Regions from separate parts of the Homo sapiens genome. Here regions 2 and 3 are each linked to region 1. The links come from fine-mapping of genetic effects on gene expression. A gene starts in region 1. Each other region holds a variant in brackets. All regions are shown on one strand. Distances are between the middles of the regions. Region 1 holds the start of GHRLOS (ghrelin opposite strand/antisense RNA). Region 2 overlaps TADA3 (transcriptional adaptor 3). Region 3 overlaps TATDN2 (TatD DNase domain containing 2).

The links. PIP is the estimated chance that this variant, and not a neighbour inherited with it, causes the effect.
Region 2: its variant is the best candidate, but not a certain one, in a credible set for the expression of GHRLOS in memory regulatory T cells (Schmiedel 2018, PIP 0.84).
Region 3: its variant is the best candidate, but not a certain one, in a credible set for the expression of GHRLOS in prefrontal cortex (GTEx, PIP 0.73).

The regions. Positions count from the first base shown.
Region 1 is chr3:10,277,851-10,285,861 of GRCh38, reverse strand. It overlaps GHRLOS (ghrelin opposite strand/antisense RNA), which reads right to left and starts at 4,910. Exons shown (of 6, transcript NR_073568.1): 1 at 4,860-4,910; 2 at 2,259-2,341; 3 at 9-114. It overlaps TATDN2 (TatD DNase domain containing 2), which reads right to left. Exons shown (of 8, transcript NM_014760.4): 6 at 7,400-7,583; 7 at 6,799-6,977; 8 at 4,644-6,641. The coding sequence ends at 6,837. GHRL (ghrelin and obestatin prepropeptide) reads left to right here. Exons shown (of 6, transcript NM_016362.5): 6 at 1-196. It overlaps MIR12127 (microRNA 12127), which reads right to left and starts at 5,511; the gene lies at 5,410-5,511. It also overlaps LINC00852.
Region 2 is chr3:9,779,399-9,787,409 of GRCh38, reverse strand. TADA3 (transcriptional adaptor 3) reads left to right here. Exons shown (of 9, transcript NM_006354.5): 5 at 70-211; 6 at 301-404; 7 at 1,985-2,094; 8 at 3,197-3,382; 9 at 6,861-7,443. The coding sequence ends at 7,053. It also overlaps a transcript of OGG1 not described here. Among named protein-coding and RNA genes, the nearest start is that of TADA3, 9.1 kb to the left of the region's middle. RefSeq lists a silencer at 4,448-4,497. The variant G/TG (reference allele first, on the strand shown) is at 4,620.
Region 3 is chr3:10,257,932-10,265,942 of GRCh38, reverse strand. TATDN2 (TatD DNase domain containing 2) reads right to left here. Exons shown (of 8, transcript NM_014760.4): 3 at 5,273-5,806. Among named protein-coding and RNA genes, the nearest start is that of TATDN2, 13 kb to the right of the region's middle. RefSeq lists a silencer at 1,819-2,008. The variant C/A (reference allele first, on the strand shown) is at 4,798.

The sequences.
Region 1 (8,011 bases):
TTACTCACCTCTCTCTAAGTTTAGAAGCGCTCATCTGGCTTTTCGCTTGCTTCTGCAGCAACTCCCACGACTGTTGTACAAGCTCAGGAGGCGAATAAATGTTCAAACTGTATGCTGATGTTCCAAATGGGAATTTATTTCAAAGAGGAAAAGTTAATATTTTACTTTAAAAAAATCAAAATAATACAAATAAAAATAATTCTTGGTTTATGGTCTGTGGGAAGGGAATAAAAGGACAAGTAGCAAGGCCAATGTGCATGTTTAGAAAACCTAATCACACCAGCTCACTCAAGCAGAGAAGCTACTGCATGTGCATGCATTGTGTGGAATTAAGACTGGGTTTCTTAGAGAAGGAGGAGAGAAAGGGGGAGAGTAGGAGGGAGAGGGGAAAAGGAGGAGGGAGAGGAAGAGAAAGAAGAGATAAAGTGGGACTAAGAGAAAGAGGGAAGAGAGGAAGAACAAAGACACAGTTCCTTTAAACATCAGGGCTTCCTGAGTGCAAGGCTGCATTAACAGCTTATTAACAACCAGCCAGGGCTGTGTGGACAAAGAAACTTCAGGATGACATTATCGAAGCCAACATCCATTCAAGATTGGAGAGGAAGACAGGAATGCCCAAGAGTGAATCTGAAGTTAGACGTTAAGTGAGGTGCCCAATCACGGCTCTTGGGCACTGCTAGACAGCACTGAAAGAGCTGCATTCTCCTTCCTCCCTTCTCCACTACTGAGAAGGCCTGACAAAGCAAATGCCTCACATGGGCAAGGCTGGCCGTCGCCATGGTTCCCTTACTGATACCAGGTGGGATCCCCAAACATTCCCTCAACTCCAGTTCACAGCAGACACGAGCCTTGACTCTTATGTTCCACAACTTAATTCCAGTTACGACACTGGTCTTCCCGGGGGAAGGCCACTCGGTCATGCCCACCTTAGCCTAAACATGTGGACTGACTTGACTGTAGGCAACGGATGGGACACATCGCTAAGGGGAGGGAAAGGCAAAGAACGAGGTGGCCCCAAAGAGCAGCACCACAGACTTGCCAATTCAGCCATCTGAGCGCTTGTGGGAAACATGCAGGAAGCCGTCTGCAGAGACAGTTGGGGTAATGCCCACACTCTGGAAAACCCCTACCACAGAGGGTGCTAGGAGCCGAGCGTCTCCCCAAGTAAAATTCTGGCCGCCACACATGCAGGCACTAACTACTGATCAGGTGCGGCAGGCAGACAGAAACCCAACTGCTCTCCCTCACATAGAAGCTGTGGTCTGTGAATGCCACCGTCATCCAGGGACTCTTAGAAATGTAGAATCTTGGGCAGCACCCCAGCCCTAATCTATCAGGATCTGCATTTTAACAAGATCCCCAGGCTACTTAGTAAACGGCTGATGGGAAATGGCTTAGAATCCCCTTCCCAGGCGTCACAGCACACTGCAGGCCCCCTACTCACCCCTCCACCCTCAGACAGCCATGCCCCTACCTCCCCAGGCACCTGGCACAAGTGGGTACAGAGATCAACACACTTGTCCTGGAACTTAACTGTCTCAGCTCTGTCACTTAGTTGGGATACGACCTTGATTATCACTAACTGCCCACAGCCCTCTTATCAATAGCTACAGAAGAGGAGCAAAGGCCCAATATGGCCAAAGTGGTCAGGAGATGGTTTCTTTTTGAGAAAGCACCACTGATTGGGCTTGGGAGAGGATGGGTACCAGGCTCTGGACAAATGCTGGTCACCTGATGCTTCCCCCACCAAAGACAAGAACTTACTTCTCTCTCAAAGAAATCACAAGCATTATTAACCGCCTGCCTGGGTCATTCAAATAGAAACAGATATTGCGCACCCACTATGGGCTGGGCACTCTCACCTGTGCCAGGCAACAAGGTGTAGTGCAAAGATCTGGGCTTTGGCCTCGGACCTGAATTTGGATACCAGCTCTGTGATCCAGGCCAAGACTGAATTTCTCAGGCTCCTCACATGTAAAATGCCTACCTTGCTGGGTTACTGCCAAGACTGAACATGAGGTCTCACATGAGCTGTAGCTGGCAAAGGGCCCGGCACGTAGCTAAGCATTCAATTACTACAGCAGCCAGCACTCACTGTCACACCCCTGATGTACACCAGGCACCGTGTTAAATGCTCATGCAGATTAATGTGATTTCACTTCATTTTCACAGCAAGCCTACTTATGAGGGAGAAAACTAAAGCTCAGAGAAATTAAGTAACTTTCCTAAAGCACACAGCAAGCACGTGGCCGACTCACAGCCAACGCCACAGGACTCAGGGGCTGCTTTTTCATCCGGTTCCACAGCCTCTCAGCCAGTGCAGCTTCCCTCGCTCTACTGCCTAGGATGAGAGAGGTTTCCATATTCATTCATTTTCCTTCAGAATACACTGGGTGAACTTGGTAGAGGGGTGAGGACAATTTCAAGTCAACAATGGGCAGAAATATAATTTATCAAAGAAAATGGTTGGAGGACACCCTTGAGAAAATGTATTATTTCAAACATGTTCCTGTATCAGCTTTCTTAAACCCACTCCTTTATGGATCGTTTAATGATACCACTGTAACTTGAGGGTCTCTAAAGTGGGGTGTATGTACCCCTAGGGTGAGCGAGCTATTTGCTGGAGAAAAAAATTCTCCTTGTGAAAAAACTTTTACTTTGTGTATAATTAGCATAAGAGCACACGTATTTAAGTTCTCATGCACTTATAGTTGTGTGTTCAGAAATCATCTTGAGAGAGTGCACAGAAAAGGGTTGAGACGCCTCAACTAAGCTACCCACCTTAATCTGAATCCACCTACAAATGTCACTGGCATTTGGGGGGCCGAGGCAGGTGGATCACCTGAGATGAGGAGTATAAGGCCAAACAGGCCAACATGGCAAAATCTCATCTCTACTTAAAATTTAAAAAAAAAAAAATTAGCCAGTCATGGTATTGGGCGCCTGTAGTCCCAGCTACTCAGAAGGCTGAGGCACGAGAATCACTTGAACCTGGGAGGTGGAGGTTGCAGTGAGCTGAGATCAGGCCACTGCATTCCAGCCTGGGCGACAGAGTGACACTCAGTCTCAAAAAAAAAAAAAAAAAAAAAAACCAAAACCAAAAAAAAATGTCACTGGCAAATGAGCACTTTTTAATACAGTGATCCTGAGAGGGACTGGCTGGCCACTAATCACCATCTTTGACAGAGTTTGCTTCTTTAATCACTGTACATTCCGGTGGCCATTTGCCCTTACTTTACAAAAATGAACAAAGCAAAATTAAGGTGCTGAAAGCAAACGATGAGTATCGGTCTCAAGCTTCCTATAGAAAGATGGAAAAACAACAGAAAAGCCAAGAACAGTCACAAGGACCATCACTGAGTGGACAAAGCCAACTGCACATTCAACTGTGAAGGAAATGAAACAAAGTTCAGGACGATGCCAAAAATACATAATCAATGATTGTATCTAAAAGATGAGGCAGCAACAGAGACTTCAAAGGTGTTCAGCATTCTTGGAAGGAAGAGAGCCTTTCTTTTTATGCGTAAGTTTACTTTTTTGGCCGGTGCACTTGTATTCAAGAATACCTTAGTACAAAATAGGAGGGCTGAGTGCAAGTAATGAAACAGAATTTCCTCCAGAGTTTACCCAGAGGCATCAGGAATTCACAGTCCAACGCCCACCATCCAACTGATTCATCAGTACCCCCAGGGACTAGATTTTTCTTCCTCCTACAGCCTTGAGCTGGAAACAAAAAAAAAACAAAAAAAAAAGAAAAGAAAGTACCTACATAGGTCAGAAAGAAGCAGTGCATCTGAGTTCCCAGACAGTAAAATTACTTAACACTCTAAGGCTGTAGAACTTTAAGAATTCTTTTCTGGGGGGAGGCGGGGGGAGGGGAAAGACAGAGTCTCGCTCTGTCACCCAGGCTGGGGTACAGTGCTGCGATCTTGGCTCACTGCAACCTCCACCTCCCGGGTTCAAGTGATTCTTCAGCTTAAGCCTCCCGAATAGCTGGGACTACAGGCGCGTGCCACCCCACCCAGCTAGTTTTTGTATTTTTAGTAGAAATAGGGTTTCACCATGTTGGCCAGCTTGGTCTCGAACTCCTAACCTCAAGTGATCTGTCCGCCCTGGCCTCCCAAAGTGCTGGGATTACAGAAGTGAGCCACCATGCCCGGCCGAACTTTAAGAATTCTTATATGCAGTTTAATTTTACAGAGAGCCACATAGATACTCAAGAAAGTCTCCAGCTGGCCGGGCGCGGTGGCTCACGCCTGTAATCCTAGCACTTTGGGAGGCCGAGGCAGGTGGATCACGAGGTCAGGAGATCGAGACCATCTTGGTTAACACGGTGAAACCCCGTCTCTACTAAAAATACAAAAAATTAGCCGGGCACGGTGGCAGGCACCTGTAATCCCAGCTACTTGGGAGGCTGAGGCATGAGAATGGCGTGAACCCAGGAGGCGGAGCTTGCAGTGAGCCGAGATAGTGCCACTGCAGTCTGGCCTGGGCAAAAGAGCAAGACTCCTTCTCAAAAAAAAAAAAAAAAGAAAGAAAAAAAGTCTCCAGCTACCTGGATTCTTGGGTTACAATGCTGGCCAACAACCAGACTAAACCACTGCATCACTCAGGTAAGTCTATACAAACACGGAGAGACTGGGTTGGCTAGAGGATCCATCACTTTATTTTCAGAAAAAGATGGCCAAAGAGGGGAAAAAATACAGAGGCATTCCCACAGCACAGTGAAAACAATTAGCCATCCAAAAAGCTGAATCAAAAACAATGCCAATCAGCTTTCACGCCCACACAGGTGAGGTTTCACTGTGCAACAGCACATAAATGATAATCTAAATCCTAGAGAGAAAAGTAGATAGCACCTTGTGCTTTTCCTTGGCAGGTGGATGGCACAGGCTTGGAGACTTCCATGTCATCTCCGCTTTTCCTCCTCTAACACAGGGCTGGTTGGTTTCACCTGCAGGCACTACTGACTTCAGGGCTTGCTGGAGAGGAGATGGTTGTGCTGCAGTTCACTTGGTGACTATAAACACTTTGATATGCTCGGCAGTCCCCCAAGTCTTCCAAGCAGGAAATCAGGTCCCCCCCGACTTCCCACATGGGCCAATCTGCAGCACAGACAACATAACAGCACAGCTAATCCGTGAAGACGGACAGTGAATCAAGGCTGAGTTCCAGGCCAGTGACTTGTGTACCAGGGGCAAGATGGAAATGCCAGATAGGAAATATTAAATCCATTCCATTTTAGCTCACAAGGCTCAAATGCGCCTTCCAAAAACACCTAGAGGAATTTAGGATTCCATAAGGGATGTATTTTACAATTTAAGCCTCCAAGACCACAGACGAGGGACTCCAGGTGATCTATCCACCTCACTGCAGATCAGGGTGAAGGATCCTTTGAAACAAAGTACAGTCTCCTCTCACTTAACCCTGGACCATTAGAACCTCTAGGGCCTGTAACGAGTATACCTTTACAAGGCACCAGCAGGCGGCAGAGCAGAGCTCAGGACTTGAGATGACTCAGTTGCTCAAAAGGTGAAGGAGAGGCTCTCACTTCTAAAACGCAGAAAGACAGGACACAGGAGAGGCAAAGCCAAGGGGGCACCCAGGAGATGCGGGAGAAGGACTGGTACATTTGCAGACACCAGGCCTGCTTATTCTGCATAGACAATGTAACATGGCTGAGCTGCCCAGCAGAGCTTCGGAGAATTACGCTGATTCACCTCTCAACCTGGGCGGGGTACACAAAGGACTGTACACAAGATGAAATGAGGATTATTTTTGGTCAAATGTTCCCAAGAAGGGGGCAAAAGTGAAACAAAAGGAGGCTGGCAGCCCCTGACACAAGACTAGCAGGTAGTTTCCGCCGCAAACTGAACCTTATCAGCTTAACACACCCACACAGCAGCCCTGAGGGCATCAGTGAGGAGGAAGTACCTCCTTTGGGGTCCTCTTCCCCAAGAAAGCCTCTTCCCGGAGTCCCCCAGTCTGTCCTGGATCTCCATCATGGACAATGAGTGCTCCTCTGCACCCCCCCATATCAATGGCAGTGGAACCAATGAGACCAGCAGCTGAAGTCCTTCTGCCTGTGCCGACGCTGGAGTTGACACCAGAACAGTGACAGTCAAACTGAAGAGTTATCCAGGGAAGGGAGGAGGACGACTTCACTGGTTGCAAGAAAATAAACCTCCGAGATAGGTGTCCAGTTAATTTCCCCCAAAAAGTTTCCCAGTTGGAAGTCTGTTTTTAGAACCGAGAACCAGGAACTGAGTTACACACCCACATGTGCTTAGACAAGTAGGCGGGTGACTTTATTCACCAACTACTCAAAAACAGGCTGCAGAGAACAGAATTTGGACTGCCAAACTCACTGTACCCTCATATCGCACTCTTTCTTCTTTGCTGCCTACCCTGGAGCATTTTGGCTGGGAGGCAAAATCCCAGTGCTATTACAGGCAGTCCCCATACCCCTCATTCCATGCCCACCCCACCCCACCCACCACCCAGAAGCTGAAGCCTTATGACCCGCTTGGAGGAAAACATCCTGTCCTGGTTTTCTGTGTTCCAATCAGCTCTCTAAACACATCCTCGACCTGAGACACAGACTTCAAGCCAGCCTGTGTTCTGTCAGGCTGCTGGTCGCCCTGGAGGGTGGAAGAGAAAAAGAAGAAGGTTCCAAACCATGTCACTCAAAACAAATCAGGCTTAATGCTCATACTATGTTTATATTCTTTACATTAACAAAATGCAACAAAAGACTTGTCCTGGTTTTTAAAAAATACAGAATGTGAGTTTTACGACCTTTTCTAGGAGACTCCCGAGGACTGTACCTTCTCTGCTTAAAGACTGTAGAGGCGACTGGTGTTCTCACGCAAGGCAGCCAAGGTGAGGGAGAGTGGCTGATCTTTGACTCTGGCAATCTCTCGGACCGTATGCAAGGCCAGGCCCGGGTGGGCATACTGGCAAAGGCTTTTGGGAACCTGGAAGACATCAAGTGGTCATAACATCATTGTGCCATGTGTGCACAGTCATAATCTAGAACTCCCTCCCTGTCCCTTCCCCAGCAAGGACCTCTTTGGGGCTGCCCTGTAGAGACCCCTTTACCTGCAGGTGCAGGGAGAGTCCTAGTCATGGGGGCTCTGGGTGAGCAGGGTCCCACGCTTCCTTGGACTACCCTCTACAGGGTAGGGCTTTGCACTGCCTGGAAGAGAGTGGTTACCCTTCAGCTTCTCAGCCCCCTAGACTTTTGGTTCTGCAGAGTAACAGCAAGGAGGCATCTACACAGCCCAGGATGGGACCTGGAAGTCACTGGGGCTCTGGCCCTGCCAACCTTGTAAGGGTGACCACCCACCTCCCCACCCTCTCCCTCCGGTGCCTCCACTCAGCCTGAAGACCCCCTTACCTGGCGAGGGAGGAAATAGGGAGCATCCGTTTCCACGATGATTCTCTCCAGTGGGATCTGCCTCAAGGCTTCCCGGGCCTCCCAGGCAGAGGAGTATGTCAGCACTGCCGTGAAGCCCACAGACATGTTGGGAAAGTACTTCAGCAGGGGCTCAATGACCGGGTAGCTGCCGGTGAAGCAATGCCTGGAGACAGAACTCCACATCAGGGCTGCTCACAGTCCCCTCTGCAGCAGCCCCCAGCTCCCCCCACACCCATCACCCCTTTTCAATGATTCCCAGAAATGGAAAGACTGCATCCTAGGGAAGGACTCCACAGTAAACACAGACAAGGGCTGGCTCCAACACAGGAAGCCCCGAGATGGCACTTGGTGAGTGATCAGAGATCACTCAGAGATACCACGCACACCACAGAGTGCTCTGCAGTCCCCTGAGATGACCACCACAGAGAACACACTGGGATAGGAAATGCTTCTAACACTGAAGAGGAGCAAAATCAACAACTGTGGCCCCTATGATGACAACGACAGCATATAAAAACTATGCCCAAGTAGTCAAATGAACTGAAAGGAAATCTAACAAAATACTGGGGAGTCGAACTACAGGTGGATTTT
Region 2 (8,011 bases), 500 kb after region 1:
TGAATGAATGAATGAAGCATGGCTGGCCAGTGCTTACCCACTCAGGGTTGGGTGCCATCTTTTCCACAGATCCCACCCCTGGGGAAGCACTACTCCCAGCGCTGGGCCCAGGAGGACCTGCTGGAGGAGCAGAAGGATGGGGCCCGGGCAGCGGCTGTGGCTGACAAGAAGAAAGGCCTCATGGGGCCACTGACCGAACTGGACACTAAAGGTAGGCCTCTCACCTCCCTGCCAACCCCAGGTCAGGACTTGAATTCCAGAACTTCAGCCCACCTCCCCTCCTTTCCTGTGCCCGCTTAGATGTGGATGCCCTGCTGAAGAAGTCTGAGGCCCAGCATGAACAGCCGGAAGATGGATGCCCCTTTGGTGCCCTGACGCAGCGCCTCCTGCAGGCCCTGGTGGAGGTGAGCAGCCTAACCCAAAAGAGGAACCATATTTACTTTGTGTTTTAATGTGTTATGCTTATTTTTTATCGGAATTTATCATACATTTATTAGGTTGGTGCAAAAATAGGTTGGTGCAAAAGTAAAAACCTGGACTAATATATAGCAAAAGATTGGGAATAATATATAACTTGTGCACCTAATAGAAAAGTGCACAGATCATAAATGTACAGTTTTCACAAATGAGCTTGTATTACCAGCCTGGAGATTACAAAATGAAACATTACTATATCCTAGAAGCCCCTCTCATGCCCCTGTTTTTCTCCAACTTTCCCCAAAGGTAGCCTTACTCCACAATTACTTTTGCTAAGCATCTGTTGGAGGGGCTTTATACACATCCTCCCACTGGAGGCCAGGACAGTGGTTAACGCTGTGTTACAGATAAGAAGATTGAGGCTCAGAAAAGGGAACTGTTCACTTGAGGTCTCACACACCAGGATTCAAACCCTAGCTTCAGGGGCCCTGTCTTTATACCTGCTGGTTGACCTTAGACACACCCTCACACTCTTTCACCTCATTGAGACTCAGTTTTCTATTCTGGCTCAAACACAAGAGTTTATCTCATGGAACAGTCTGGGTACATGTTGCAGGTTATCTAAGGTAGGGGAAGGGGCAGGTCTCTATCTCATATCATCAGACAGGGACCCCAGCTGACGGTGGCCTTGCAGTCTGCACAAGGTCACTCTGGGCGTAATTGTCACTCCAGTCCCACAGAATAAGAGCAAGGAGGCCGGGCGCGGTGGCTCACGCCTGTAATCCCAGCACTTTGGGAGGCTGAGGCGGGCGGATCACAAGGTCAGGAGATCGAGACCATCCTGGCTAACATGATGAAACCCCGTCTCTACTAAAAATACAAAAAAATTAGCCGGGCATAGTGGCAGGCGCCTGTAGTCCCAACTACTTGGGAGGCTGAGGCAGGAGAATGGCATGAACCCAGGAGGCGGAGCTTGCAGTAAGCCGAAATTGTGCCACTGCACTCCACAGCCTGGGTGACAAAGTGAGACTCCATCTCAAAAAAAAAAAACAAAACAAAACAAGGAGGAGTGTGTGAAGGAAACTTTTTGGCCCATGCCTAGCTATGGCTCTTATCTCTTCTGATCACTTTCCCCTGGAGAGAACTTGTCACATGACCATACCCGCCTGCAAGAGAGCCTGGGAAGTACAACTGGACAGGCATTGCCTAGCTGCCGTGGAGGAAAGAAGAGTATGGCATTCGGACAGCTAGCATCTCCGCCACAGCAGGCCTAGCACACTGCCTGGTGCGTTGCAGACGCTTCACAAACCTTAGCTGTTCATTACCATCATTGAGTGTTAATCATTTCTCTTCTGTGTTCCTTTTTCTTCACATCAGTACGAAAATAAAAGGGATTTCTAGAATGATCAAAGCAATTTGGGATTGGTATGGGAAGGCTTCCCACGGTAGGTGGGATGGGAAAGATAAAAGGATATTTCTGGTGTTTGAAGACTGTCAGTGTAGGTCAGAAAGGAGCAGGAAAGTGGAACAGCTATTTTTCCTTCCACTCATTTTTGTGGTCTTCTAGGAAAATATTATTTCCCCTATGGAGGATTCTCCTATTCCTGACATGTCTGGGAAAGAATCAGGGGCTGACGGGGCAAGCACCTCCCCTCGCAATCAGAACAAGCCCTTCAGGTGAGTGGTGTCCTATCCACAACCCACAGTCTGGCCCCCGCTTCTGTTGGCTTCTCTCCATCTCAACCTGGGGAAGTCCTCATCAGTAAGAGGCTGGGGGCAGTTAGGTGAAGCCTAATAGCAGTCTCAAGTGTGAGTGATGACCCAGCGTGTCTGCATGCACAGACTGAGTGCAGGGTTGTTCAGCACAGAACTGTTCATACCATAAATAACCCAAATGTCCTGCTGAAGGGGAATGGTTGGCTAAATTGGCATAACTCCATATGATGAAATAACTTGGGGCTATTAATCATATAGCTGCAAGTATAGAGAAATATAGTTAAATGACATGAAAAGATGTAAATTATAGAGTGACAAGTGGAGAAAATATTAGTTGTAGCCCAGTATGGATGGTATAATACTATTTTTACTTAAAATATATTTCTTTTTTTCTTTTTCTTTTTTTTTTTTTGAGATGGAGTCTCGCTCTTGTCGTTTAGGTTGGAGCGCAATGGCGCAATCTTGGCTCACTGCAACCTCCGCCTCCCAGGTTCAAGCGATTCTCCTGCCTCAGCCACCAAGTAGCTGTGATTACAGGCGCCTGCCACCATGTATGGCTCATTTTTGTATTTTTAGTAGAGACGGGGTTTCACCATCTTGGCCGGGCTGGTCTTGAACTCCTGACCTCAGGTGATCCTCCCACCTCGGCCTTCCAAAGTGCTGGGATTACAGGTGTGAGCCACCATGCCTGGCTTACTTACAATATATTTAAATATGTGCACATAAGGGAAAAAACCTGGACTAATATGTAGCAAAAGATTAGGAATAATATATAACAAAATCTGGAATATATATAATAATATATAACAAAATAATAGTAATTCTCTCTGGGTTGTTGGCATTATGGGTTTTTCCATATTTTTTGAATAGTAGATACATACGTTGCTTGTTTTAAAAACCAGACCAGATGTGTCTGTCCCTCCCTTTGTATCTGGATAGATACAGAGGGGGTGCCCAAAGGGAAAGGCAGGTTTTCACTGACCTTGGGAAGCCCTGGGAACCTCCAAGGTGGGCCCTTCTCCAAGCTGGCTCTTGAGTCTGACGGGCCTGCCTCCCGCTGCAGTGTGCCGCATACTAAGTCCCTGGAGAGCCGCATCAAGGAGGAGCTAATTGCCCAGGGCCTTTTGGAGTCTGAGGACCGCCCCGCAGAGGACTCCGAGGATGAGGTCCTTGCTGAGCTTCGCAAACGGCAGGCTGAGCTGAAGGCACTTAGTGCCCACAACCGCACCAAGAAGCACGACCTGCTGAGGTGAGCGTTAGCAGGATGCACAGTCCCGGGGGTGGCCTTGGAGGCTGTGGCCACGGCTAGTCACCTTTCAGGGGTTTTACAACAGGCTTTCCAATCCTGGCTGGCCTCTAAATCACCTGGAGAGCCTCGAAAAAAACAGCAGTGGCCAGTCCACCGGGTATGTCCCAAACAAATTCTGATTCCACAGAGTGGGGCTCAGGCATCTGTGACTGACCGATTGATTTGATTTGTTTTTGTTTTGTTTTTTTTTGAGAGGGAGTCTCGCACTGTCACCCAGGCTGGAGTGCAGTGGCATGATCTCGGCTCACTGCAAGCTCCGCCTCCCAGGTTCATGCCATTCTCCTGCCTCAGCCTCCTGAGTAGCTGATACTACAGGCACCCACCACCACGCCCAGCTAATTTTTTTGTATTTTTAGTAGAGACGGGGTTTCACCGTGTTAGCCAGGATGGTCTCGATCTCCTGACCTCGTGATCCACCCGCCTCGGCCTCCCAAAGTGCCGGGATTACAGGCGTGAGCCACTGCGCCTGGCCTAGTTTGGTTTTTTAATTATGGTAAAGGCATAATATAAAATGTATCTCCATGGGAGGCTGAGGCAGGAGAATCAGTTGAACCTGGGAGGCGGAGGTTGCAGTGAGCTGAGACTGCACCATTGCATTCCAGCCTGGGCAACAAGAGTGAAACTGCATCTCAAAAAAAAAAAGAAAAAAAATTTACGCTTCTTAACCATTTTTAAGTGTACAGTTTAGTAGTGTTACCCATATTCACATTGTTGTGTGATTTATTTTTTGTCTTTTCATGCTTCTTTTCTTTTTATCCCCAAAGTTTTGTTATTAAAAATTTGATACACACAGAAAATCTGAAAGAATCATACAATAAACATCAGTATATTCTCCACCTAGACTAATTAACTGTTAACATTTTGTTGGAGATCTGTGATTTTTATTTGCTCATCACAAGAAATTGACCAGTGTTTTAGGACATGTTCTTTTGGGAATCCATCACAGTGCCTGCCATTCATTTGATGTCAACTCCCATCCATCTTGTTCTGCATTGATCACGAGGGTATAGGTGACATCTTGAGGAAGACTGTGGAATAGCTACCCTTTAGGTAAAGAGATAGGGAAGCAACCCGAACAAGTCTCTTTGCTTCTCACAGACAAGTGCTGTGTCTTAACTTCATAGAGCCCTGACAGGACAGGGCACATTCATTCATTTGGCCTTTTTTTTTTTTTTTT[G/TG]AGACGGTGTCTCACTCTGTTGCCCAGGCTGGAGTGCAGTGCCATGATCTCGGCTCACTGCAACCTCCGCCTCCCGGGTTCAGGCAGTTCTCCTGCCTCAGCCTCCTGAGTAGTTGGGATTACAGGCATGCACTACCATGCCAGGCTAATCATTTGGCCATTCTTACTGTCTCTTAGATATTGTGCTGGGGGCCAGCAAGAGAGGCAGAGCAAGGGACTTGCAGATTACTAGCAGATGATCAGTAAAGATAAGTGCCATTAAAAGGAGAGGTAGTTGCTGACAAGCTGCCAGGGTATTTAAGGATAAGAGTGACTAATGTATGCTGAGGGCCTACTGTGTGTCAGGGGCTTTATGTACACTCTCTCAAGTGTCTTGACAACAACCCAGGAGGGAGGAGCTATTTTCGTTGTTTACCAGATGAGGAAATAAAGGCCCAGTGAAGCGAAATGCTCTGCTGAAGGTCACACAGTCAATAAACAGCAAGCTGAGACTTGAACCTGTGGTTGAATCAAAGCCTCTTTCTATAATAGTTTGTTTTCTCTGAAAGGTGAGAAGAAGAAAACACAGATGGAAGAGGCACTGAGGGAAGCAGAGGGAGAGAGAGGAAGAGAGAGAAAAGCAGGCATGTGCAGTTACAGAAGTAGTGGGCCCTAGCTGGGCCTGGTGGCTCATGCCTGTAATCCCAGCACTTTGGGAGACTGAGGTGGGAGGCTTGTTTGAGCTCAGGAGTTCGAAACTAGCCTGGGCAATGTAGTCAGACCCCCTTCTCTACTAAAAATTTTTAAAAATCAGCTAGGCATGGTGGCACATGCCTATAGTCCTACTCAGGAGGCTGATGTGGGAGGATTGCTTGATCCTGGGAGGTAGAGGCTGCAGTGAGCTTGATCAGGCCACTGTACTCCAGCCTGGGTGACAGAGTGAGACCTGTCTCAAAAAAAAAAAAAAAAAAAAAAAAAGAAGTAATGGGCAATGAAGAAATGGCTTGCAGCTCTCAGGAAACCAGAGCACAGCCCTTACCCTGCTGCAGAGCAGCTGCAAGGCCTTAAGCAGCCCCTGACCTGAGCATCTCCTTCCCCTTCTGGAAAACTGGCAGGCTGGACTCAATCACTAAGTGACCTTCCAGCTCCACCATCGATGAAATGTATAAATCAGACCCTGTTCAGAGAGATTGATCTGGTGTCTCACCCACCTCCTGTCAGCCTCAGGCTGCCTAGACCTTAGGGGGCTCTGGAATGCAGATGCCGACGTAAGCAGGCCTTCTGCTGGCACCGGAACACCTGAAACAACAGTGTTTAAAAACAAGAGTTTGGCCCCAGCCTGCTCCAGATCTCCCCCTCACTAACTGTGGGATCCTGGGATCATCTTTGAGCCTCATTTTCCTCACGGGTAACATATGAATAATAGTACATATTTTGCAGGGTTGTTAGGATTAACTGAAAGACAGAGAGAGAGAGTGGGTGTGCCTGTGTGTGTGTGTTTGTGTGTGTGTATGTATATATATATATATTTTAGAGACAGGGTCTTACTCTGTTGCCGAGGTTGGTCTCAACTCCTGGCTTCAAGTGATCTTCCTGCCTCCATCTCCCAAAGCGCTGGGATTACAGGCATGAGCTACTTTGCCCAGCCTACTGTGTATATTTTTAAGACCTTTTTTTTTTTGAAGACACAGTCACGCTCTGTTGCCCAGACTGGAGTGTAGTGGCATGATCATAGTTCACTGTAACCTTGAACTCCTGGCCTCAAGCAATCCTCAGCTCCCTTGGAGTTGGGACTACAGGTGTGCACTACCACACCCAGCTAATTTTTTAAATTTTTTGTAGAGACAGTCTCACTATGTTGCTCAGACTGGTCTCGAACTCCTGGGCTCAAGTGATCCTTCTGCCTTGGGCTCCCAAAGTGCTGGGACTGCAGATGTGAACCCCCATGTGCAGCCAAGACTTTATTCTTCTAGAGCAGTTTTAAGTTCACAACAAAATTGAGAGAAAGGTACAGAGAATTCCCGTATCTCCCTGTCCCCACATGTGCACAGCCTCCCCCGTGATCAACATGAGTTAATATTTTTCAGGAGCTTAAGATAGTGCCATGTAAGTGTAGGTCAGTAACTGCTTTTTGGTCACGACTGTATGACACAATCCACAGGCATGCCAGCCTGGGCTGGTGGGTAGGCTCGGTCTTGAAGAGGGAGGGGTTGTTCTCTGGAGGTGGGCTGACCCTGGCACCTGGCTGGCTGGTCCCCACAGGCTGGCAAAGGAGGAGGTGAGCCGGCAGGAGCTGAGGCAGCGGGTGCGCATGGCTGACAACGAGGTCATGGACGCCTTTCGCAAGATCATGGCTGCCCGGCAGAAGAAGCGGACTCCCACCAAGAAAGAAAAGGACCAGGCCTGGAAGACTCTGAAGGAGCGTGAGAGCATCCTGAAGCTGCTGGATGGGTAGCCCTCACCCCTGCCTCAGGCTGATTATCTGGCCTAGGGGAGGGGAAGGGAGGCCCACTTCCTTCTTTGGGCACAGGAAACATTGGCCTGTGGCTGTCCCTCAAATGGCGGCAGTCTCTAGAGGGCCGTGGCCCTTCCCCTGAGGTCTTTTGGCCTAGCTCTGTACAACCAGGACACAGGAAGCCCTGCTGGGCTAGCCTGAGGCCTAGTCTCTGCTTGGTCCCCGAGATGGGGTTGGAGGGGACTTCGTTTCTGGGTCTTCCTCTTCCCCTCTTTACCATCCCCCACTCCCTAATCCCCTACCCCTGTCTCCCCTTCAAGGACTTCTCCCTTGTGGTTTTGTAAAGTGCAAACTTAAGAATAAAGTGACTGCTGTGGTTTTTCAAAAAAAGCATCCAGTCTTTGAATGTCTGTTACAGTGGGGAGGAAGGAACCAGTGTGGGTGGTAAGGTTTGTGGGGGGTATGCTTGGTGGCTCTCAGCCCATGGCCACTAACCCATGGCATTCAGTCAGGGAGAACTTTCTGAGTACCTCTTTCTGAGGATACTTGTGGCTGCACGTAACAATGCCCCCCCAGCTCAAAGTGGATTCACAGTAAGGAAATGTGTTGGCTGCAGGATGGGCAGTCCTGGGACAGAGTGGCCTTCACGGTTAGCCAATCTAGCAATTCTTCAGGGTCATCAAGGGTCCAGGTTTCTTTTTTTTTTAATTTAAGTTCTAGGGTACATGTGTACAACGTGCAGGTTTGTTACATATGTATACATGTGCCATGTTGGTGTGCTGCACCCATTAACTCGTCATTTACATTAGGTATATCTCCTAATGCTTTCCCTCCCCCCTCCCCCAAGGGTCCAGGTTTCTTAGGGGTCACCACACTGCCCTCCACAGTGTCGACCTCTGCCTAAGGTGAGTCCTTCTCTGGCTGTAGTGTGGCAGTGGAGCAGTTGGGGCCAGATGCT
Region 3 (8,011 bases), 20 kb after region 1:
TTGGAGGTGCCAGACTTCCAAAGTGAGGGTGAAGCCGCAGATGAAAATAGGAATTAGCTGAAGTCTGTCAAGATCTCCAGACCCCTGCTCCCACCCTGTGCAGATGGCCTGCCCTTTCCCCACCCAGCAAAGGACAAAAGTTGATGCTTGGAAAAGTTAAACCAAGGGGACCACAGAAAAATAAAGGTGCAATGAGCTATGACCATGCCACTGCACTCCAACCTGGATGACAAAAACTTTTTTTTTTTTTTTTTTTTTTTTGAGACGGAGTCTTGCTCTGTTGCCCAGGCTGGAGTGCAGTGGTGCAATCTCAGCTCACTGCAAGCTCCACCTCTCAGGTTCACGCCATTATCCTGCCTCAGCCTCCCCAGCACCTGGGACTACAGGTGCACGCCACCATACCTGGCTAATTTTTTTGGATTTTTAGTAGAGACGGGGTTTCACCGTGTTAGCCAGGATGGTCTCGATCTCCTGACTTCATGATCCACCTGCCTCAGCCTCCCAAAGTGCTGGGATTACAGGCATGAGCCCCACGCCCAGCTAAAATTTTTAATTTTTAAAGTTCTGGCCGGGCGTGGTAGCTCATGCCTGTAATCCTAGCACTTTGGGAGGCCGAGGCAGGTGGATCACCTGAGGTCAGGAGTTCAAGACCAGCCTGACCAGCATGGTGAAATCCTGTCTCTGCTAAACATACAAAAATTAGCCAGGCATGGTGGTCCATGCCTGTAATCCCAGCTGCTCAGGAGGCTGAAACAGGAGAATTGCTTGAACCCAGGAGGCAGAGGTGGCAGTGAGCTGAGATCACACCACTGTATTTCAGCCTGGGCCACAGAGTGAGACTCTGTCTCAAAAAGACAAAAAAGAAAAAAAAATTGGCAGCAATAAAAAAAAAAAAAAACCACGCACAGGAAAAAAAAAAAAAAGACCAAAAAAAAAAAATCAACATAAACGTTAGAAGATAAACTTGAGCCAGGCGCGGTGGCTCACGCCTGTAATCCCAGCACTTTGGGAGGCCGAGGCGGATAGATCACCTGAGGTCAGGAGTTCGAGACCAGCCTGGCCAAAATGAAACCCCGTCCCTTCTAAAAATACAAAAATTAGACAGGCATGGTGGCATGCGCCTATAGTCCCAGCAATTCAGGGGTCTGAGGCGGGAGAATCGCTTGAACCTGGGAGGCAGGGGTTGCAGTGAACCAAGACCAAGCCATTGCACTCCAGCCTGGGTGGCAGAGTGAGACTCTATCTCAAAAAAAAAAAAAGAAGATAAAGTTGAAGAAACCATCCAGAAAAATTTTTTAAAAAGGATTCACTGGGAAGAAAAGAAAATTGGAATTTCCATCCGAAAGACCAAGCATAAAATAGATGGTCCAGAAAAAGAAGAAACAGACAAGAAATCAAATAATCAAGAAATTTTCCCAGAACTTTTCTAGGCTAAGGATGTACTGAACAAATTCGACTTATTTTACTCTTTCCTGAAACCTCACTAAAACTAAAGAATCTAAAAACCAAACAAAAAACAAATAAAACCCCTCTACAATAACAAAAACACCAGAACAGGAAGAACAAGAGACTACAGTGATCACGCACTGGAGGCTAGAAAGCAGATGGCCAAATAACACCTCACTGGCAGACCAAGAGAAGGCTGAGACCTAAGCTAGGCACCAGGAAAGCTTAGAACAGAGCAGGCACTCGCGGTACTGGGCACCTTGGGAACTGGAGGAACTGGAGTTACAGAAGAACATTAAAAGGAGGAGGACAGGGTGAAATCTGGTTTCCAATGAGTTAGATCCCAGATTCCCTCCTCATACTCAGAGAAGGTGAGTTGTTTGAAGACAGTAAAACAAGAGGATCTCTAGAATAAGGCCTGGTCAGCTCAGTGGAGGGCACTGGTACTGCACCAAAAAGACAAAGATTAAGTGAATGCTGACGCCGCCCCCGCAGCCGCCCCTTTCGCTACCCAGCTCCCAGCCACCTTTCCTCCTAAGCAGGCTGAAAAACACTCCTCTGGGCAAGGTGACCAGTCTCGAGGCTTTCCTAAAAGCAGTGACATGGCAAGGGGAAGAGGGTTATATTCTCCCGATCATCCCAAAGCAAAGCTCAAAGTCTTTACGCTCAGAGCTTCCAAACAGCTTTTTAATCCTCCCATTCTTGATCATAAACAGACAACCAAAGATTACCAGACATGTGAAGGCAGCCTCTAACACAGAAGAGATCAAAAGAAACGGAAAGAAGCAACTTAAAGAAAACTAAAACCAAGCCAAAAAACTACCATGAACTCCCTAAAAGAGATAACAGAAGATGAAACAAGAACAGAGATGTTATTAAAAAACAAAAGAGCTCTTGGATAATAAAAAGCATGACAGTAGAAAAGTAAAACTAAATAAACAGCTGGGTTGGAAGATAAAGAAAAGGAAATATCCTACAAAGTAAAGCAAGAAATTGGCTAGAAACAAGGGAGAAAGGCAATAAAATTACAGGACCAGTCCTGAAAAATCCAACATCCAAATAAGAGAAAGAAGGTAGAGAAGCTAGAGAGAGAAAGAGAGAAGAAAAATACGGAAAGAAAACATCAGCGAAGTACAGTAATTCACGAACTTTTCCCACAGCTAAAGTACAAGGGTTTCTAGATTGAAAGGGAATGTCCCATGCTAAGCAAAGTAGACACCACCACCATGAAATTTCAGAGCCCTGAGATCAAAATATATTCTACAAGATTCCACAGAGGGAAAAAAAAAAAAAATACAGGTTGGGCACGGTGGCTCACACCTGTAATCCCAGCACTTTGGGAGGCTGAGCCGGGCGGATCATGAGGTCAGGAGTTCGACACCAGCCTCACCAAAATGGTGAAACCCCATCTCTACTAAAAATACAAAAATTAGCCGGGTGTGGTGGCACATGCCTGTAATCCCAGCTACTCACAAGGCTGAGGCAGGAGAATCGCTTGAACCTGGGAGGTGAAGATTGCAGTGAGCTGAGATCACGCCACTGGACTCCAACCTGGGTGACAGAGCAAAACTCTGTCTCAAAGCAAAAGAAAATAAAAAATAAAAAATCATATACCAAGGTTCAGGAACCAGCATAGCTTCAGACATCAAGAAAACCAGAAGAGGCCAGGCGAAGTGGCTTACACCTGTAATCTCAGTACTTTGGGAAGCCTAGGCAGGTGGATCACCTCAGGTCAGAAGTTTGAGACCAGCCTGGCCAACATGATGAAACTCTGTCTCTACCAAAAATACAAAATTAGCCAGGTGTGGTGGCGTGTGCCTGTAATCCCAGCTACTCGGGAGGCTGAGACAGGAGAATCACTTGAACCCAGGAAGTGGAGGCTGCAGTGAGCCAAGATCACACCAGTGCACTCCAGCCTGGGCAAGACAGAACGAGACTCCACCTCAAAAAAAAAAAAAAAAAAAAAAAAGCCCAGAAGAAAAGGAGCAATGCCTTCAAAATCCCAAACAAAACAATTTCCAACCTGGAATTCCAAAACCAACCAAGCTTGTAATCAAGGTTAAAGGTAAAATAAAGGCAATCTCAGACACATGTTTACCAAAAAAAGTTTCTCCATGTACCCTTTCTCAAGAAGCTACTAGAAAAAGTATTCCACCAAAATGTGAGAGTAAACCAAGGAAGAAGAACATGAGAAGACACAGAGTATAGGTAGCAGAAGACTCAATCCGGGAGAAATGTGAAGGAGGCTCCAGAGAGACAGCTGCCAGCTGGCCTGACGGCAGGCAGTCCAGACCAGAGCAGGACAACAGAGGGCTGAGGACGTATACCTCCAAGAGAGAAAAAAAAGAAACAGATTCCTTATTTTGACAGTATTGAGAAGGATTTTACAGCTCTCGCAGTTTGGGGATTAATTAGTGAAAGGTACCAGGAAAACCAAAGGAAAAACAAAGTAATGATGAACTTTAAGGAAAATGAAGTTTTACAAGAAAGAAAATGTGATCAGAGTATACAAGGCGACTCAGCTGTGAACATGGCAGTAACAAATCTTACACAGACTTAACCCAAAAGGTATTCAAGCCACACAGGGAGGCTGCAGAAAGGGGAAGCTAATGTGTCCCTGGGTGTGGGTGCTTCTGAAGGAGGTATAGAGAACTAAATTCTCATCGCCCAAGCAAGAAGTCCTCAGACATCTAAAACTGAAAAACTGATCAACAGTAAAGATTATTTAGAAACATGGGGTAAGTACTAGAAGAAAGAGCTAAAGATGAGAGAAGCTGCCTGCAGAGCAGTAGTAAAGGATGGGTGGAGACGAGTAAGATGGAGGAATGTGGCCTGGCACAGTGGCTCATGCCTGTAATCCCGGCACTTTGGGAGGCCAAGGCAGGTGGATCACGAGGTCAGGAGTTCGAGACCAGCCTGGCCAACATGGAGAAATCCCATATCTACTAAAAATACAAAAATTAGCCGGTTTGGTGGCGCACACCTGTAATCCCAGCTACTCAGGAGGCTGAGGCAGGAGAATTGCTTGAACCCAGGAGGTGGAGGTTGCAGTGAGCCAAGATTGCACCATCGCACTCCAGCCTGGGCAACAGAGCAAGACTCTGTCCCAACAACAAAAAAAAAAAAAAAAAGAAAAAGATGGAGGAATGCTTCCCCTCAATTATAAGCTATGTTAAAAATCACTAGTTTCCGTCCAATGACATCCTTCCCTTCTTCTCTGGTTATCCAGGTACAAGTCTGCCTAGATAAAGGCTGATTTTCCAGACTCCCTTGCAGCCAGGTGTCAGCCGGGTTTCCCCGCTCTTGTCAACAGCAGATACAACATGTGCAACTCTTGAGCCAAGCTCTTAA[C/A]AGGGAAGGAATGCACTCTCCTCTTCTCCCCTTCCCACTGGCCAGAATGCCCAGATAACAAACCCTGAGTCCTATCAGAGTATCCATTTCACACCAAGAGATGGACACTGTGTTGAGGGGTGATAGAGAATCAAGACAAAAGGTACCAGTATCTCTGACATGATGGAGCCATCCTTCTTAAGCCAAACTTATATTCTGTTTAAGCCACTGTGATTTTGGCCTTTTACACAGCAGCTAAACCCATATCCTAACATATAAATCCTTCAAAAAAAAAAAAAAGCACTTAGTTTAGGTTTATTAATAACTCTGAAAATCTGAAAAGTATGTTAGAAGAAAACCATCAGTTTGTTCCCTGGAGGCCTGGTTAAGTAAAGTACTATTTTTAATTAGTAACACTTAGGATCAAACTAGAAAGATGGAACACATTTCATCAACAGAACTAAAAAGTCAGATGCCTGGTACAAGCTTTACTCACCTTTTGGATTTCTAAATGAGAGTCAGAGTCATCCAAGAACTCTAGGGGTGGAGAGCATTTGTCAATGACAGTCCTTCGGTCCCCAAGGGGCTCCTCACTGGGTTTCTCTTGAGGGTCTATAACTACTCTCCTGTCATAGAAGCTGCTCCTCTCTGGCACTGTCTTATCCTCCTCCATGCTGACCTCTGGGGTTGCGTCTTTCTCCTTCTGAGCAGCAGTGACTGTGACACTCCTGGCTGCTCCTTCTGCAGTCTTGGCTGGTCCTTCACTCCTGGCTGGTCCTTCTCCATGGCTGGGATGCTCTGCTGCGCTTGGTTTTGCCCGAGTGGCAGCCTCTCCCTTCCTTTTTGGCATCGATTTCCCCAGGATGCCCTGGATAGCCTTCAGGTAGATCATTGTGGAGCCCTGGTCTCGAAGTCTATCCCTCTTCCTTTTCTGGACCTTGTTGGGTTCCTCAATTGTATCATTCTGACCCTCAGCTTCAGCTGCAAATTCAGAGTTTGTGGAGTTATGAGAACTATCTTTGGAATCAACCTGGGAAAAAAAAAACAGAATTGAAAGGGCTGTTCCAAGGGCACTTTCGTACATGAAGCATTTGGCAAATTATAAATCAGTGGTGGTTCTACCAGTCAAAGGGAAAGTGACTGTGGCTAAGGCAAAGGTTCTCTCCGGGTGGTGAAGTGGCACTGTAAGAGGGGCTGATTGCTGCCATTTCTTAGCATTCGCCTTCTCATGCTCAGCAGATGATATCCTTTCACTGCAAGGGGACGGAAGGAGCTGAAATGAACACTCTCATTAAACCAGACTGCAAGCTCCTGGAAGGCAAGGACTACACTTCAGGCAAAACAGCAGCTCAAGCTCTTCCCACTGGAAAGGGCCCTAGAAACCAGCTAGCCCAATCCCATATCTAAGGGTAAAGGAAACCTGAGGACCCAGTGAGGGGAAGGGCTAGCCCCAGGAACTCCAATCCCCCAGTTCTGAGTGCAGTGTTTTTCCCACCATACCCAAAGCCTCCTGAAAGTTCTCTGCAAACACTTCCCCTCAAATAATCAACTTGGTTTTGGAAAATACCTCAGTTTCTCAGTGACTGCACCAGGGTCAGTCAAGATAGACTGCTCCCAACAACAAACCTCCTCCAAGACGGAAGTGAAGCCTCAGCCCCCTCTTGCACCCACTCACTCCAGGACTCCACACAGAAAAAGCTAGACTTTGTTTGCCAGACTATTTTGATGTGAAATTCTAATCCAGTCTAATCCCTGCCGGGTGTAAGAACTCTCCACAAATGTCCTCCTAAGGCCATTCCATAAGCAGTAAACCATTATCCCATTTGCATTCCTAAGTCATTTCTATTAAATTCCTCTCAAAAGTAAATACAGACCAGGTACAGTGGCTCATGCCTGTAATCCAGCACTTTGGGAAGCCGAGGCAGGTGGACTGCTTGAACCCAGGAGGTCGAGACAAGCCTGGCCAACATGGCGAAACCCCATCTCTATAAAACACACGGGGCGCGGTGGCTCATGCCTGTAATCCCAACACTTTGGGAGGCCAAGACAGGAAGATCACTTAGGCTCAGGAGTTCAAGACCAGCTTGGGCAAGGTGTCAAAACTCTGTCTCTACTAAAAATTACAAAAATTAGCTGGGCCATGGTGGCACACGCCTGTGATCCCAGCTACACGGGAGGCTAAGGCACAAGAATCGCTTGAACCTGGGAGGCAGAGGTTTCAGTGAGCCGTGACGGCACCACTGCACTCCAGCCTAGGCAATACAGTGAGACCCTATCTCAAAAAAAAAAAGGCAAAATTGCTTTATATGTATATATTCGCAAACAAGTCTAAAAAGCTAAACTGTTTATAATGGATCTCTTTGGGGAATGCAGGGAAGTAGAAAGAGACTTAGGCTCGGCTGGGAGCAGTGCCTCACACCTGTAATCCCAGCACTTTGGGAGGCCGAGGCAAGTGGATCACCTGACATCAGGAGTTCGAGACCAGCCTGGCCAACATGGCAAAACACTGTGTCTACTGAAAATACAAAACTTAAGCCAGGCATGGTGGCGGGCACCTGTAATCCCACTTACTCAGGAGGCTGAGGCAAAGAATCGCTTGAATCGGAAGGCAGAGGTTGCAGTGAGGCAAGATCGTGCCACTGCCCTCCAGCCCAGGCAACAAGAGCAAAACTCTGTCTCAAAAAAAAAAAAAAGAAGCAAAATAAAAATAAAATTACAAAAATTAGCCAGGCGTGGTGGCACATGCCTATAGTCCCAGCTACTCAAGAGGCTGAGGCAGGAGAATCACTTGAACCCAGGAGGCGGAGGATGCAGTAAGCCGAGATCATGCCACTGCACTCCAGCCTGGGTGAGAGAATGAGACTCTGTCTCAAACAAACAAACAAACAAAGGCTTAGGTGCTTATATTATAAGCTTCTTGTATCATTTGAAATTTTTTTCCGAAGAGCACATCATATTTTTTTTTAATCATTATCCTGAATCAAGGGCCAAAGGAAAATAAAACTTAAAACAATCATAAACCTAGCTGGGCGCGGTGGCTAATGTCTGTAATCCCAGCACTTTGGGAGGCCGAGGCGGGCCCATCGAGACCATCCTGGCTAACACAGTGAAACCCCGTCTCTACTAAAAATACAAAAAATTAGCCGTGCGTGGTGGCGGGCGCCTGTAGTCCCAGCTACTCGGGAGGGTGAGGCAGGAGAATGGCGTGAACCCGGGAGGCGGAGCTTGCAGTGAG